2 separate regions of the Homo sapiens genome follow, and region 2 is reported to be linked to region 1. Evidence: microRNA targets listed by miRTarBase, many of them from high-throughput screens and not tested one by one. Region 1 holds a microRNA gene; the other region holds the end of a gene's coding sequence. Distances are from middle to middle.
What was found. Region 1 holds the annotated microRNA hsa-miR-6751-3p (ACUGAGCCUCUCUCUCUCCAG, at 1,292-1,312, opposite strand). A microRNA usually pairs through its seed, bases 2 to 8, with sites in the 3' UTR of a target mRNA and lowers its output. Matches are read on the target gene's strand: a 7mer-m8 pairs with bases 2 to 8, a 7mer-A1 pairs with bases 2 to 7 and ends in A, and an 8mer does both.

Region 1 (5,000 bases):
GAGCTAGGGATGCTGGTGGAGGAGGCAGCAGCAACAACTGTAGTGGCAGTCTCCTCAGTGGAGTTGACTGAAGTGGCAGGCCGGGGGGGCCTGGGAAGAGAAGGGACGAGAGGCGGGCCTGGCCTTGGCATCCAAGGTTGGGCAGATTCTCCTGCCCTTGGTGAGCCTTGCAGAACAGAGTATAGAATGATGTGCCCTTGTGGCCCCAGTGCCTGGCAAACACAAGTGAACATGCTGAATGAACTCAGACAGGGTGACTGGACTCAAGGGCCAAATGATTCTATCCCTTAGCTGTAAGGTGCTTGCAGGCAGGGACTGTTGACCTGTTCACTCTTACCCTGCAGTCTCCACCCTGGGGAGTCAGGCACCTTATAGGGGACTCACTCAATAAGCCACAGTGCTCGAGCCTTGGACTCAAGTTCCTCTCCAAGCCTGTGCTGTCACTGCTAGATGCCAGGCATTATGTACATGTCACTTTTTTAAAAGACAGCGTCTCGGCTCTGTCACCAAAGCTGGAATTTAGTGGCACAATCATAGCTCACTGCACCCTCAAATTCCTAGGCTCAAACAATCCTCCTGCCTCAGCCTTCCAAAGTGCTGATTATAGGTGTGTATCTGGCAGTACACATCACTTATGAATATGAATTAAGACCCCTTTATTCAAATAATGAGAGGTCAAAAATGAGTGATGGGACCAGCGCTTGAACTTGAGCCAGGATGGCTCCAAGTGACTTCCTATTATTCGCTCCCTCAGTTTGGGGGCAGCAATTGCCAATCTAAGTGTCACCACATCTCAGAAGAATATCATGTGATGAACTAAAGCACTGCAAATTCTGAATAATTTGACTTTAGAAAAATATAAAGGAATAAGATCTAAAGTCAGCTCTCGAATAAACATCACTCCTACTTAGATCCAGACATGCTTTCTGGAGTGGGAAATAAAGGCACCAGGAGTTACCAAGAACTCCTGGAGACCCTTGGTGGGCCTGTAGATAGGCAGCCTGAATTGGCAGGTGTCAAAGGCCAAGAACCACTGCTGGGGACCTCTTGGCAGCTCCACTCCTGACCCACCAAACCCACTCTGCTTCCCCTGTACAGACACACCCCAAGGAGGCCAGCACGGTGAGGTACTGGTTGATCTGCAGCATGGCGGCGTCCAGCAGTGTGTGGATGTTACGCAGGCTCTGCAGCCGGGCCTCCAGGTGCTGCCGCTCATGGCCCTCCAGAGCTCGTAGCTCCTCTGGGGTCAGCCCAGCAAAGCCCGCAGGGGGCACAGGCATTGGGGGGAAGGCTGGAGAGAGAGAGGCTCAGTCTGGGCTGCTGGGGCCAGACACCAACCTCACCCCCAAGAAGAACCCAGAGAGTGGCCCAGCTTACCAAAGGGTGGAGGCAGGGGCATACCCATCCAGGGAGGAGGGAAGGGGAAACCAGGGGCAGGGCCAGCCTCTGGGGCAGAGCCAGAGCCTGGGCCAGATGCTGTGGCAGAAGCAGCAGTAGCACTGGTGCCAGCAGCTGTGGTTGTAGCTGCTCCACTGGGCCGAGAAAGGGCTGCTGAAGAGCAGGAACGAAGTCAGTGAGTGTTCCATCCCTGCCGCCCCCTGGCTGTCACAGTACCCAAAGGCTCACCTGCACTGGTGGATGGAGGAGCCACAGCCTCTCCTGAGCTGGGGGGAGGCGGGACAGGTGGAAAGGGGCCCATGGGGGGCCACAGTGGGAACATGCCTGGAGGAAAAGGAGGCAGGAGGCCCTGGGGGACTGCAGAGAGAAGACGGAGGTAAGGAAAGGGCCAAATGGACACAGACCCAACTCCCAGGCAGGGGGCCTGGCTATTGAGAGCTCTGTCCTATTCCCACAGGCCCTCAGCCCAGCACTGGTCACACTGACTGCAAGCATCTATTTCTCATCTTTTAATCCCTCCCTGGCCCAGACTGAGATTCTGGAGGGCAGGGACTCTCCAATTTCCCAGCATCTTCCACATCCAGCCCAGGGCAAGTATCCAGTGGTATGCCGGGTGGCCAGACAAGGGGATACTCACAGTTGGGGGGCTGAGGCAAGAGTGGTGGGGGGTGGGGGGCAGGGGGTGGCCCCTGATCCGCAGGCTCCGGGGGTGGTGGTGACTGCGCTGGCAGCGATGCACGAAGGACATCCATACGGCAGGTGGGGCAGGTCTGCTGCCGCTGGAACCAGGAGCGCAGGCAGCTGCGGGTCAAGGCCAGGCAGAGGTCAGCAGGTCCCTAGGGGCCTGCCTTCTGGGGCCTGTGCCCTGCTGTGCAGGCTCCCCAGGGCCCCTCCCACCTGGTATGGAAAATGTGGTTGCAGGGCAGTCTCTTGGCACCAGTCACCATCTCTTCTCGGCAGATGATGCAGACATTGTCCATTGCCTGGAGCTCCTCTGGGGTGGCATCTGGATACCTGGTTAGGATGACAGGGGCTGTATCAGGTCCAGAGCTGGAAGCAGAGGGACCCAGGACCGAGCTTGGGACAGCAGCCATGACAAGCCTACTTACAGGGTGTTCATGTTGCGGATGGCTCGGCGAGACATGATGGCATCTGTCACAGCTTTCTTGAACTGTCTGAAAGGACAGTCAGTGAAAGCAGGAGAAGGGACGGGATCAGGTCAGGAGGATCGGGGGACAGGGCCGGGCTCACCTCATGGCCAGGTACATGGGCCGGATGGCAAAGAGTGGGAAGGTGTGCACCTTGATCATGATGGTCATGAAGGCCATGTACAGCAGAACCTTGATGAAGCCTGAGGGGAGGGGATGCAGAAAGCAGCAGGTCACAGGGCCAGGAGGCAGAGTGGAGGATGCTGGTCCAGATCAGGAGAGGCCCAGGCCCCTCTCACCTGTAAACAGCTCTGTGTAGAGCATGTACACAGCCTTGTTGTCCCAGGGGTTCTCACTCTGGAGGTCCACGGAGTGCAGCACATACTTGATGAAGATGGTGAGCACCATCGTCATCAGGATGGCATACTGAAGGGAGAGGGGGACGAGGGGGATGTAAACACATAGCTCCCCCTTGCTGCACCCACATTGCTCCCCAAGGCCTCTGCACAGCAGGTGCAGTGGTACAATCACAGGCTCTAGACACACCCAGGGTCCTCCTAGCCCCTCCACTTACTAGCTGTGACTTTTGGCAACTCAGTGAACCTCAGTTTACTTATCTATAAAATGACATAATTAACTGTTCCTTTATAACAGTATTGTCTTGCTGAATAAGAGATGCAGGTCAGGAGCTCAGCATAGGGCCTGGTGTGAAATTCGCACTCAACAAATATGAGCTGTTGTCACTGAACACATTCTCTCTCTGCCAGGGACACGCCTCCAGTTGTCCATGGAACTAATCCTCTCCTGTCCATTACCAGCTAGCTCCGGCACGAGCCTCCAGGAACCCTCTCCTGAGCCCCAGGTTGGGGCTCCTCCTCTGTCCTAGCCTCTTTGTGCGTCTCCCCAGTCACCTAGGAGTGAGCGTGTGGAGGGCAGGAGCCATATCTGATCACTGCCCCTTGGTGGCCAGCACAGGTTGGCCACATAGCAGGTGCTGAGGAAGGGTCTGTTGGGTTATTCAAGGCACATGTGGGGTCACCTCGGGCTTGTCCTCTCAACCTCCCAAGCCAGTTTTACCTCAAAGCCAAACACCAGCTGCACAGAGGCCCCACGGGTCAGGATGCTGTGATAGGCGTGGCTGACGAAGAGGAAGTCCAGGATGCCCAGGAGGAACATAAGAGCTGTGGGGACCCCCACACATGCAGGGTGGGGGGGTCAGCCCAGGGCCCAACAGCTGTTTAATGCTCTAGGACAGCCCCACCCTCAAGCCCACCATGGCCCCAGCGATCTAGTCAGGTGGGCACACTCCACTGAACCTGGCCCTCTGGGAACTTCCTGGGGGAGGGGGAGTTGTTGGGGCTGCCCAGGCTGCAGGTGAGAAGGCAAAGGGCTGAGGGCCCAGGCAGTTGAGAAGCCCTAGAGTGGAACAGCACAGAGACTATGCAAATTAACTTCCTAAATTATCTTTCCTGTACAGCTGTGGGGGGTAGCCTGTGCTCTGGAGTACAGGTCCACGGTTCACGTTCCAGTCCTCCCTTCCCCTCCCCTGAATCTCACTCACAGACAATGCGGCAGTGAAAGAGCCAGGAGATGTTGGGGCTGCGTTCCATCTGAGGCAGAGCACAGAAGAGGCCTGTCAGGAGGCCTGGGGCTCACCCCACACCCTCAACCTAGCCCTCCCTGCTCCTTAAGCCTGCCCGCTGGCTACTCCCTGGCTTCCACCTGCTCCAGAACTCCCTGCCTTGACTCACAAAGTCCACACGGTCCTCAGCCAGCCAGTGGAAACATTTGAGGAAGAGAAGAAGAGTGAAGAGTGCAACAAAGCGGGGGCTGAAGTCATCCCGAAAAACGGTGAAGGCCAGACAAGTCTCTGTGACGGCGTACCAGGAACGTTCCAGAAGGTGCTGGGGGCCAGGCAGGGAATAATGTGGATACCAAACATTCTTTCCCAGCACCCTGCCCTCACCTTTGGGGCAGCCGACATCTTACCTCCATCTCTGCTGCCCTCAGTTGCCCAAAGAACACCTTGCCCATCACCTTGCCCAGAAGGAAGACAAGGACAAAGGCCTGGATGTACAGGACCTAGGAGTGGGGAGAGGCTGTGGTTTGAGGTCACTTTCTGCTTTCCTCTCCTTGGGACTCATCATGCAGGATCCTCCACATCCTCATCACAGTTTATTCAAAGTTAGGCAGCTGGCGGCTACTTCCCTACTTACCTGACCTCTAGCCCCGCCCCTTGCCCAGGCAGACTCCTCCTTCCCTCCCAGGGAGTTCCTCCCTCCCTGAGCCCTGAACTCACTGCCATGCTGGGGCTGGACTTGGTCAGGTACACCACAGTGGGGTAGAACTGGTGTTTGAGGTAGTAGGCGTGAGCCACCACAGCCCCGGTCAGCGCCAGGCTGGCCGCCATCATCACTGCCGTGCGGAACATTGCCCTGGCCCGGAGACCTGCAT
Region 2 (5,527 bases), 61 Mb from region 1:
TGTTCTAGCAAGAAGACTGCTATCTTCCTGCATGGTCATTGGGACAAAAGAAAAATTTCAGGGCTTAAGGAGTTAAGTATACCAATCCAGATATCCCCATTATCCCAAGTCTCAGAGTCACACTCCTTCCTTATGAGGGCCCTGACTTTGGCTCAGGAGACTTGTCTGGGCTAAGAATTTCATTCTCTCTAAAGTTCTCCAACCCTTACAGTTGAATGCCTTGCCTCATTATCAGCTGCAAGAAATGAAGGTATTTCTAAATGCTGCCAAGAAAGGCCTCTGACTCACACTTTGCTCTAAATTTTTGGATTAATAAATACGAGCCTGCTATTTTCTGTCTTTGGTGCTCCAATCATGCTTAGCAACAGCCATCCAATGCCACAATCCTTATCATCACTATCATCTCTGCATTTCTCAGAGTCAGAGATACCCACAAGCAAATTCATCTTCCACCTCTTCTAAGTCCAAGTTCACCACAATTGAAAGTTTTAACAATCACACTGCTACCACATATCAGCAACGGTCAGTACTCCAAATACCACCATAGGGTACTCATTGACATTTAGCCAGTTGAACAATCCAATGCAATATTCCTTATTATGGCCTGCTTTTTGTGACCACTCCTGTTACCAACTGTCTTTGGCCAGGTTCCACAGAAGCAGAACTTGAGAAGAGGATTCTGATGCAAATAATGCAGTGAGGAAGTGCTCTCAGGAGAAAACTATAAGGGAATGAGGCAAACGGTACAATGGGGTGATGCTTGAAGAAGATGTGATTCAGGTGAAGTCAGGCTTTGTCCAAAAGATAACTCTGGAACATAAATGACACTATACCCAGCCCCAACTTGTGCAAGTTAACCTCCCTTTTATTCACACATATCAGTCAACCATTGGCTGTGGGTCACCCTTGGGGAGAGGGCAAACCTTCCAGTCATTTCAAGTGAGAAGCTCCTCCTGTCTGAGAGCAATGCTCAGAAGAGTGCGGCCATGAGTTGTTAGCGGGAAAGAAGCAGAGTTTCTCAAGGGCTGGGCTGTCAGTAGCTGACTGCTTAGTCATAATTCAATAGGGATTTAATAACGTGGAGGACAGTGAGAGAGTACATTTTTATGTAACTTTGTAAGAAGTAAGAACAAATTCATAATGTGTTAAAGTTATAACAATGGTTGCTAGATAAAGCAGAGGATGGCTACACACAGAAGGAAAGGAGACAGCTAGGCTCGACCATGCTTGCTTGTGTCTTCCAAGCCTCCTTCTAAAGTGATCTGTGAGGGCCACAGCCCCTGTGTAGCCATGTCCTCCACAACACAACCACATGGCCTTTCGCACTACAGCAGGCACCTGAGGCAAGTGCAGACAAATGTGTAGACTAGCAATGGATCTACGAAAGTAACAACAAATAATGAGCTGGGACAATCAGATCATTTCTCCCATTTTTTTCAATTATTTATTTATGCATTCATCTTGTATTCATGGTAATTTATTTTAACCTTTGGGCTCATTTATTTTGTCATTCAAATTGATCCAGTTTGGGCCATGGGGAGATCTCTCTGTTTGTTCCTATTTCCCTCTGATATACTCCCTCAGATTTACAGGCTCATCTTCTCTTCATTTAATTTCCTGCCCCAGTCCTACAATCAGCCATTTCTCCAAGGACTTCTGATTTCTTTTTTTTTTTTGAGAATGGTATTAGAAACCACAGTCTGGGTGCTAGGGGTACTCATTACTATTGTTATTGTTATTTGACAGAGCAAGGAAATATATGTATGTATAATAACTCATAAATATACATATTTATAAATATTTCTTTTATATACATATTTATAAATAATCTGTATTTATATTTAACTAAATATGAATTCATACTGATGTCTAATTCATTACCTCATTGATCATTCTAGCACCTTTCTCTTGCTTATCTGTAACTTCTAACTCCAACAGTGAGAAACCTGGATTCCCCCAGCCCCCATTCATTTGCTTAGGAGTTCAATTACAGTGTACCTGTAGAGCAGTATCAGAATTATTAACCTATAACCTTGGGGAAAACAATTTTATCAAGTAGAGTGCAGAGCTTGTGTACATTTTCTTTTGCCTTTAAGCTTACAGGCTCCACTCATTTACAAAGTTACTCAGATCAGAAACTTTTCCCCCAACTCAACTCAGAGAGATTGTTTCACACATTTGTAACAGTTACATCATTTTTGTCACATTGTGCATTCCTTCCTGGAATCCTCTGACTTCCTAAATGATTTTTCTTTTAATTCTCATACATTGTTTCATTCTTTGTGCAGTAAAGTTCTATGGGGTTTGACAAGTGCATAGTGTCATGTATTTACTGGTATAGTATCATACAGAATAGATTCATCACCCTAAAAAATCTTTTATACTTTACCTATTCAATCCCTTTTTTCCTCTTAATCCACTGGCAGTCATTGATATTTTCACCAACCCTATACTTTGGTCTTTTACAAAATTGGAATCAGAGTACACATGTTCCCAGACTTACAATGATTTGACTTACAAGTTTTTTAAACTTTAAGATGTGTGAAAGCAATAAGCATTCAGTAGAAGCCATACTTTAGTACCCATACAAGCATTCTGTTTTTTACTTTCAGTAGAGTAGTCAATAAATTACATGAAATACTCAATTACATGAGATACTCAAAGCCAATTATAAAATTGGCTTTGTGTTAGATGCTTTTGCCCAACTATAGGCTAATGTAAACATCCTGAGCACATTTAAGGTAGGCTAGGCTAAGCTATGATGTTTGGAAGGTTAAGTGTTTTAAATGCATTTTCAGTTCACAGTATTTTCAACTTGCAATTGTTATAACAGGATATAACCCCATCATAAGTTGAGGAGCATCTGTATGTAGCCTTTTCAGACTGGCTTCATTAACTTAGCAATATTCATTTAAAAATGTATCCATGTCCTTTCATAGCTTGATAGATCATTTCTTTTCATCATTGAGTAGCATCCCACTGTTTGGATGTACCATAGATTACATATCCATTCACTTATTGATGGGCATCTTTATTGCTTCTAGTCTCAGGCAATTATGAATAAATATGATTTTAACATTTGTGTGCAGGTTTCTGTGTGGGCATAACTGTTCAAATTGGTTGAGTAAATATCTAAAGGCATGATTACTGAATGACATAGCAAGAGTATAATCACCTCTCTAAGAAACTACCAACTGTCTTCCAAAACAGCATTACCATTTTGCATTCCTGCCAGCAATAAATGAGATTTCCTATTGCTCTATATCTTTGACAAAAATTGCTACTGTGAGGGTTTTTTATTTTTTTGATTTTGACCATTTAAAATGTATAGTTGCGTAATATTGTTGTTTTAATTTGCAATTCCCTAGTGAGATATGATGTTAAGCATATTTTCATATGCTCATTTACTATCTGTATATCTTTTTCTATTCAGATTTTTTGGCCAATTTTTCTGGCCTTTATTTATTTATTTATTTTTTTATTTTACTTTAAGTTCTGGGATACATGAAAGAAAGTGCAGCATGCAGGTTTGTTACATAGGTATACATGTGCCATGGTGGTTTGCTGCACCCATCAACCCGTCATCTAGGGTGCAGTCAGCCTTATAAGGACAGAAACACCAGGGTTAGTGTGTATCCAAGGAAAATGTGCCACCTTGGCCACAGGTGTGCTCCAACATCAATGCTACTCAGTTTCTCTTCCTATCTGTTTCTGTGTCTTCCTTCTTCTCTTCCCACCACTGTTACCCATATATGCTACCTTTCTCACACTTTCTGCAAACTCATAACTTCCTCTTACACAGGGCACTCTGTTACTTGAACACTACCTCATGGTATCTATTTACATCCTATTATCTTCAACTACTACACCACCTGCCACATTATCAGCATTTTGTTTGCTCAGTCCCATGAGAAGAACCTGACTAGCCATCCTTAAAAAAACACTCTGTTCCCAATCCAATCACCTAGTTCAACCATGTGCCCAAGGCTGCCTGGCCAGCCAGGGCAATGATAATTCAAGCCAATTCCACCCACAGCAAGTTATTTCTCAGATCTTAGTTTTTACCAGTTGAAATGCCCCCTGAAGTTTTCTTTGATGCTCATCCCTATGTCTGTTCAGTTTTTTTTTTTCTGCCCTGAGGTTCCCCCAAGAGCTCTATCAGAGAAAGACTTGGCCCATGCTGCCAACACACTGGGAAGCTGGGGTTAGCCCTCTCCAGAACCCACGGGCAGAAAAGGACAGTGCCAGAAAGTGTCAGGGCTAATCCAAAGAGAATTCCAACGGAGAGGAGTGTGTGTGTAGATGAGGATAGAGGATAGTCACAGAATTCTCAGTACAAATTGGAGATTATTATGGCCCAAGTGTTCACATTTTCATACAGGAGATAATAAATGACCAAGTCTGAGCTTATTCATGGCAGTATCACGTAAGGAGAGCAAAACCCCTCCCACCTGTTAGCGACAGGGATGTGCAAAGAGTGAGTCTAGTGCTCCATCATCAATAGGCTCCGCTGTCCACACTGCGTCTCCTTATGCCTGCTTGTCTTTTCACTATGAGCTGGCTTTCTCACTCTCTACCAATGCATAGAAGAGGAGAGCAAAATTCAGGTTCAGGGAAGAGAAAAAGAGCGTAGTGGTTGAAAAAGAACCCAAAATCCAGGAGAGACGTAGAACTAAACTCCCTCAGGGAGGTTGCAGTAGTTACTATGATCACAACAGATGAGCTCTACCCTCTTCGTGAACCCCAGGAAGTTGATGTCCTCACAGCTGGTCATACACGACAGTTTTGAATAATGATACATGCTCTGCCCTGAGGAGGTAAAAGAGAGGAAATATGATCATAATGACCTCATTTCCTTTTACTGCGTTCCTAGGAGTAATCTGTTTTTGTGTCCTCACTAACCTTTCTCTAGGCCCAAATGAGTTCCAAAGCTGAGTCTGTTAATTGCTGACCCAGAGAGTAGATTTTATTCCCTGCCAGGTAAGGGACATCAGCCTCTTTTTCACTCAATATGGTCTTAGGGAAAAGTCTGTCTTTGCCATCCCCTCAAGACCACCCCATACTCACCCATCCCATTCACCTACTCACGCTGAGGGCAAAAGAACACTACTGTTTCTCAGGGATGGTGGTGGTGATTTTCCAGTCACTCTATACTCCACATTACCTTTCCTTGTAAGGATGTAAAAGTTCTCAACTGCACAGGACTGTTTATGCTTCAGGGAGCAGGATGTCATGACACCATAGCATAACCCAAGATGATATTTTTTACATTCATAACACATTATTTCAGTCGCTGCCAGATACAAAAAGAGGTGCTTAGAGGATGCAGTCTTGAGAATATTCTCTGGGGCTGGGGGCTTCACTACAGGACCTTATTCTTGCCTAGTGGTTCCTAACATTTTTTGGACCATGGACTCTTGGTAATCTTGAGAAAGATAGGGATAATCATGCTGCGGTCCTCCCCATGTACACATTAATAAATTTGTACACATTTTCTCCAATTAAAAAAATCTTGTGAAAGATAACC

Region 2: miRTarBase lists PATE2 as a target of hsa-miR-6751-3p. Seed matches in the 3' UTR shown: 7mer-A1 at 4,401-4,407.

What each region holds. Positions count from the first base shown.
Region 1 is chr11:65,128,625-65,133,624 of GRCh38, forward strand. MIR6751 (microRNA 6751) reads right to left here and starts at 1,354; the gene lies at 1,292-1,354. It overlaps SYVN1 (synoviolin 1), which reads right to left. Exons shown (of 16, transcript NM_172230.3): 2 at 4,846-4,994; 3 at 4,536-4,628; 4 at 4,298-4,450; 5 at 4,108-4,156; 6 at 3,624-3,727; 7 at 2,846-2,972; 8 at 2,650-2,749; 9 at 2,508-2,573; 10 at 2,296-2,412; 11 at 2,036-2,199; 12 at 1,627-1,755; 13 at 1,378-1,551; 14 at 1,105-1,291; 15 at 1-90. The coding sequence starts at 4,977. RefSeq lists an enhancer at 3,726-3,775 and a silencer at 4,498-4,674.
Region 2 is chr11:125,772,710-125,778,236 of GRCh38, forward strand. It overlaps PATE2 (prostate and testis expressed 2), which reads right to left. Exons shown (of 4, transcript NM_212555.3): 3 at 5,165-5,293; 4 at 3,404-4,809. The coding sequence ends at 4,673. Among named protein-coding and RNA genes, the nearest start is that of PATE2, 3.4 kb to the right of the region's middle.